Linked DNA regions of Homo sapiens. The protein of the gene in region 1 purifies or fractionates together with the protein of each later gene. This does not show direct contact. Each region holds a gene or a part of one and is shown on either strand. Other genes may lie near its edges.

Region 1 (2,932 bases):
GGCTCAGGTGGCCTGGAGTGTTACTGTAGGAGAGGCTATGTGGATATACAAAACCTTAGCCACCTTGGACAGAGTTCAGCATGGACTGGGACAGCCTGCCAATCAGTCCTGAGCAGTCTTGGTGATGCTCTGAGGTGTTGAAAGCCTGGGCTGTGGAGAAGGATGTGTCAGAGCATGAGGGGGCACTGGGATGTGTGTGTGTGTGTGTGTGTGTGTGTGTGTGTGTGTGTGTGTATGGGGGGTGTTGGACCTTTGTTGCCACTGGAGGATGTGACTGGAGAAAGTGAAAGCCCCAGTAAAGAGGAGAATCATACATGGATTAAGTTGAGCTGGGCCCTTGGAAGGGGACAAGCTCACCAAGTGACCAAGTGTAGAATGTGAGAATTAGAGGGAGAAGCAGAAATAAGAGGAGATGTTGATTGTCAAAGGAGGTCCACTAGGGATATCTCTTCTAAAGACTCTGAATGGTATGTGGAGAGGTTGAGGACACTGTTCTGCAAACCAAGGATAGAAAAGAAGGCCAGGAGCAGTGGCTCATGCCTATAATCACAGCACTTCGGGAGGCTGAAGTGGGTGGCTTGCTTGAGCTCAGGAGCTTTAGACCAGCCTGGGCAACATGGTGAAACCCTATCTCTACAAAAAATATAAAAATTAGCAGAGCATGGTGGCACATGCCTGTAGTCCTAGTTACTCAGGAGGCTGAGGTGGGAGGATCATTTGAGCTGGGGGAAGTCAAGGCTGCAGTGAGCCAAGATCACACCACTGCACTCCAGCCTGGGTGACAAAGTGAGCCCCTGTCTGAAAAAAAAAAAAAAAAAAAAAAAAAAAAAAAAAAAGGAGAAGGAAGTGGCATGAAGGAAAGCTGTAGGCACAAGATAATTTAAAACACTCATCTAACATGGAGACAGTAACACTATCCTGGCTGTTCCACATCATCCAATGAGGGACTTATTAACTTCCTAATAGAGCTCCTCCTCTAATCTGTTTCCACTGGACAGCCCTTTCCACACTTTAGTTCTACATACTACAGACTTTGTCTGATCCTGCAGACAATGGGGAATCATCAAGCATGTTCATCAACTAAAAGGAAAAACACTTTGGGACTGCTAGGGTCCTCAAAGGCCCTAACAGTCCTTCACAAATTGGTACTAATGTCTATCTACAGCTTTATTTTTTTGCTATTCTCCCCTTTATTCCAGCCACACACAAAGCATTTGTACTTGCTCTCTGCCTTCTTGGAATGCTCTTCCCTTCTACACATAACTAACTCCTACTCACCTTTCAATTTCCAACTCAGAAGCATCTCAGCTATGCAAGGGCTTTCATGTAATTCACCCACTGAGTGAAGAAGTATTTTGTATCATTTCAGATCACACCACCCAAATTGCTGCCTCTTGATGATGACCTCTTGGCTAACATACACAACATGACTGAATTCATTTTTCTGGTACTTTCTCCCAACCAGGAGGTGCAGAGGGTTTGCTTTGTGATATTTCTGTTCTTGTACACAGCAATTGTGCTGGGGAATTTCCTCATTGTGCTCACTGTCATGACCAGCAGAAGCCTTGGTTCCCCCATGTACTTCTTCCTCAGCTACCTCTCCTTCATGGAGATCTGCTACTCCTCCGCTACAGCCCCCAAACTCATCTCAGATCTGCTGGCTGAAAGGAAAGTCATATCTTGGTGGGGCTGCATGGCACAGCTTTTCTTCTTGCACTTCTTTGGTGGCACTGAGATTTTCCTGCTCACTGTGATGGCCTATGACCACTATGTGGCCATCTGCAAGCCCCTCAGCTACACCACCATCATGAACTGGCAGGTGTGTACTGTCCTTGTAGGAATAGCATGGGTGGGAGGCTTCATGCATTCCTTTGCACAAATCCTTCTCATCTTCCACCTGCTCTTCTGTGGCCCCAATGTGATCAATCACTATTTCTGTGACCTAGTTCCCCTTCTCAAACTTGCCTGCTCTGACACCTTCCTCATTGGTCTGCTGATTGTTGCCAATGGAGGCACCCTGTCTGTGATCAGTTTTGGGGTCCTCTTAGCATCCTATATGGTCATCTTGCTCCATCTGAGAACCTGGAGCTCTGAAGGGTGGTGCAAAGCCCTCTCCACCTGTGGGTCCCATTTCGCTGTGGTTATCTTGTTCTTTGGGCCCTGCGTCTTCAACTCTCTGAGGCCTTCTACCACTCTGCCCATAGACAAGATGGTGGCTGTGTTCTACACAGTGATAACCGCGATCCTGAACCCTGTCATCTACTCTCTGAGAAATGCTGAAATGAGGAAGGCCATGAAGAGGCTGTGGATTAGGACATTGAGACTAAATGAGAAATAGAGGCTGAGTCTTTGTATTGATACTTGGGTTTAGAATGACTGTTGAGTCCAAACTGAAGGAGCAGAATAGGTTGAAGGAAAGTTCACAGGACCTGTTAGTTGCAGATTATTCTACCTGGCCTCTCTCTTTAAAAAGTTCATTTTCATAACTTGAATAGTATTTCTTTTTGTGGAGGTACTAATTTTTTACCACCATAAATAACACTGTAGTTAATATTCTTGAATAGACATTTTTAACCATGCTTCTGACTTTCTTTTAGGCTTATTTCCTAGAGTGAATTTAGTGTTAGAGTATAAAGACTTTTGGTGCACAGTGTTACACTGAGTCACCTATCTTGTGAAAGTGCTCTTGACAGAATAGAATCCTGTCATTAAACACTTTTTTTTGGATAAGAAATGATTTTACATTGTTTCAAAGTATCTTTCCTTAGGACACCAAGGGGTATTAATTACAGAGAGAAAAATGTAACTTTATAGCCCTTCCCCTCTAAACCATTGCCCAAAGTGAGTATCACCAGAAATAAGATCCATTGATGCCATGTGCCTCTTGATATGGTGCACTGGAGAGGCACACAATATCATTATTGTGCTATTC
Region 2 (3,829 bases), on another chromosome or scaffold:
ATTACAAATTAGAAAATTTCAAATTTACCTGTTCTGTTTTTCATGAGATGTTATTCTTTTCCCAGATTTAATCATTTTTAATTAATTTATTTTACAGTCTCTATCCTATAGTTGCATTACCTGAACTTCTTGGAGGCTAATCTGACTACTTTTGTGTCTGTGACTCTTACTCAAGGTGGATTGCTTCCTTGTGTGTTTGTAATTTTGGATTGTGAGTTTCTATCTGGTGGGACTCTACCTATGAGGATCCTCTATGACCTATTTTGAGGCTGTTGTCCCTCCAGAGGAATTTTGTGATTGCTTCTGCCAGACATCTCAATGTTTATGTTAATTCTTCTGCTCAGGGATTCCCAGACCATGAGGCCAAAGTAAATCCTAATCCCACACACAGGAATGGCATGGACCTGTGATTTTGAGTTTTCAGGGGCATAAGTTTTCATCTCCACACTCAAATACCGACCCAAGAAAGAAAAGCTTCCTTGCCACTTTCCTTTTCTCATTAGCTGATACTTTTCCTCTTACCCACCATAATTTATCCTTTAAAGTTTCCAGCTTTATGCAGGATCAATAGAGTCTTACTTCCAAATCCCCACCTGTGTGGATGGGACTTTCCTGTCATCCAAGCCCCTAGTTACAAAGTTGACCCTACATCTCCCATAAGCAGTGTCAACTCCTGTGCTTAACCAGTCCATTTGTGCTGCTATAACAGGATGCCACAGACAGAGTAATAATAAAGAACACAAATTTATTTCGAACAGTTCTGAAGACTGGGAAGTTCAAGATCAAGGCACCACCATTTGGTGTCTGGTGAGGGCCTTCTTGCTGCCTCCTAGCATGGTAGAAAGCAAAAGAGTAGAAGGCTGTAGCCAAATACTTCATGAATCCTCTTTTATAAGGACCCTAATCTCATTAAAAAGGGAGGACCTTTCATGATCTAATCACCCCCGAAGGCCCCACCTCTTAATACCATCACATTGGCAGCACCTGAATTTTGGAGGAGACACATTCAAACCATAGCAACCAGTCAGACCTTCATTCCTGGAATGCAAAATTTTCTTTCTTTCCTGCAAAGCCAGCTATTAAATTGAATGTCTGTCACATTTTATACACCATATAAAAGTGTTTACAGTGGGAATTTCTTGTGTTATCTAGTCTACTGTATTTTCTGACCATTAAAGCTGAAGTCATTTTAAAATTTGATATATTATTCACAATTGCAGGGTAAATGTTGTCCAGACTCAGAGTTTAAGAAACACTTTCCTGTTGGAAATCCAGAAATTCTTCCTTCATCTCTTCCAAGTCAAGCTGCTGAAAATCAAACTTCCACGATGGAGAAAGATGTTCGTCCAAAGACAAGAAGTATAAACAGATTTCCTCTTCATTCTGAAAGTTCATCAAAGAAAGCACCAAGAAGCAAAAACAAAACCTTGGATCCACTTTTGATGTCAGAGCCCAAGCCCAGGACCAGCTCCCCTAGAGGAGATAAAGCAGCCTATGACATTCTGAGGAGATGTTCTCAGTGTGGCATCCTGCTTCCCCTGCCGATCCTAAATCAACATCAGGTACTCAGCCTCTGTTCTCTGCTTACCTTTCTGGGAACCATCCGCACAGTGTCTTAAAAAAATCCAAGACCTGAAAGATGTTCACAAATGTTGTGGCTGAAAAGGCCGTTTTCTCTGACTCCCACTTCTCTGGGTGCCCAAATGCACTATCTCGTAGCACTTACCACCTGGTTTATTTGCATCACCTCCGAGAGACTGAGTCACCTTTGACTCAAGCCAGGTCTTTGAAGGTAGAGCCAGGTCCCTCTTCTCTGTGTCTCCAGCTTCTAGGCCAGGGATTGATTTGGAGCAACTGCTTCAAAACTGTTGAGTAAATGAATGAATCAGAGGATACCCAGTCTATCTCTCTCATGGTGTAGATATGGCACTGAGGCCCAGAGATGAGATGTCTTGGTCAAGATCCTAAGCCAGTTGGTGGTGGCTTACCTCCAGCAGATCAAGGTTTGCTTCAAGAAGATCAGGGTTTGTAGGCATCTCCCTGAATATCATGATTTTTATGTCCTAGGTTATTTTCTAGTAATAATAATAACTGGCATTAGAGGTTGTTAACCATTGTGTGCCAGTTACAATACAGAGCTCTTTATAATCTTCATCATAAACAATAGGCATGCATTTTATCTCCATTTTACAGATAAGGTGAAGTAGCTTTCCAAGGAGTATACAATTAGAAGGTGGCAGGATCCAGCCTGAGTCCACATGTATATAGCTCCAAAGTTTATGCTCTTAAGCTCCAGATTAAATGCCTTACTTAAAAAATTTATTTTTTTTCAAAATACATAAGTACTAGATTTTGTTGGAGCTAGTTGATATAATATCATATAAAGAAGTATAAAAGCAAAGCTAACCCTAATTCCCCAACCCCATACCCTGAGATACCACTTTGGACAGTCTTATGGGCATCTTTTCAAAGCTCTACCTTTGCATATACAAGCCTAAACAAGCATATACTGGGTTTTACTTGTTTCTTTTTCCACACATATTATCTTACTATACTTTTTACTCTGCCACATGCCTTTTTCACTTAGTATATGATGCATGCTTCTTACAAAAGACTTAGTATGCCAAAACCTTTTTTTCTAACTTCCTTGTGCATCTATGTATGCACATAAGCATATAATTTTACAAAAATGGGTTCATTTCATATTTGCTGGGGGTGTTACTAGTGCCATTTTTCCTTGCCTCCCACAATTTGGTATATTTCCTTTCACAGTTTTCTCCATCCTTATATAACAGAGTCGCCAGATTTAGCAAATAAAAATACAGGACATTCAGTCAAATTTGAATTTCAGAGAAACAAAGAATTGTTTTTAGTGTAGGTATATTCCATGCAATGATTGTTTTGCTAAAATTAAAATTTAACCAGGACACCCTGTATTTTATTTAGCAATTTCTTATATAACCACCATACAAACATACACATTTGGAGTCCTGTTATATACATTTTTTCACTTTTTTTTTTTTGAACCAGTAAAGCTGCCATCTTTTTTTTTTTTTTTTTTTTTTTGAGACAGAGTCTCGCTCTGTCACCCAGGCTGGAATGCAGTGGTGGGATCTCGGCTCACTGCGATCTCTGCCTCCCGGGTTCAAGCGATTCTCCTGCCTCAGCCTCCTGAGTAGCTGGGAGTACAGGCACCCGCCACCACACCCAGCTAATTTTTGCATTTTAGTACAGATGGGGTTTCACCATGTTGTCCATGCTGGTCTTGAAATCCTGACCTCAGGTGATCCACCCGCTTCAGACTCCCAAAGTGCTGGAATTATAGGGCATGAGCCACCACGCCCAGCAACATTTCTTTACATCCTAATGTAAATTCAGCAATACCCAAGGAAATCCCTACAAACAAAACAGTGTGGCTTATTTTTATTAATGGCTGCCTAAGATTCCATGGTGTGAGTGTTCTCCCATCTGTCCCTCCACCCAGTGATAGCAACAGGCCCCTGTTAAACTTTGTCGCAAGCCTCCTATACTTCTGGCTCAGTGGGCTCCTGACCTTTTCTATGCCATTACACTCCAGTCTTTGGGCAGGGCTCATGCTCTGTAACAAGGGACAGCAATATCCAGAGATATTCTAGGAGCTAGCACTTCTTACTTTAACCATATCAAACTTTTTTTATATCCATTTCTTAGGAGAAATGCCGGTGGTTAGCTTCATCAAAAGGAAAACAAGTGAGAAATTTCAGCTAGATTTGGAAAAGGAAAGGTACTACAAATTCAAAAGATTTCACTTTTAACACTGGCATTCCTGCCTACTTGCTGTGGTGGTCTT

What was found.
Region 2: the proteins of OR4X2 (region 1) and XAF1 purify together in Homo sapiens (affinity purification with mass spectrometry; one large-scale study listed by BioGRID and IntAct). This does not show direct contact.

The regions. Positions count from the first base shown.
Region 1 is NC_000011.10:48,243,678-48,246,609, forward strand, and holds OR4X2 (olfactory receptor 4X2), read left to right. Parts: upstream 1-1,426; coding exon 1,427-2,338; downstream 2,339-2,932. UniProt on the Homo sapiens protein: Odorant receptor.
Region 2 is NC_000017.11:6,769,423-6,773,251, forward strand, and holds part of XAF1 (XIAP-associated factor 1), read left to right. Parts: intron 1-1,220; coding exon 1,221-1,562; coding exon of another isoform or gene 1,563-1,619; exon of another isoform or gene 1,620-2,927; intron 2,928-3,690; coding exon 3,691-3,747; 3' UTR 3,748-3,829. UniProt on the Homo sapiens protein: Seems to function as a negative regulator of members of the IAP (inhibitor of apoptosis protein) family. Inhibits anti-caspase activity of BIRC4. Induces cleavage and inactivation of BIRC4 independent of caspase activation.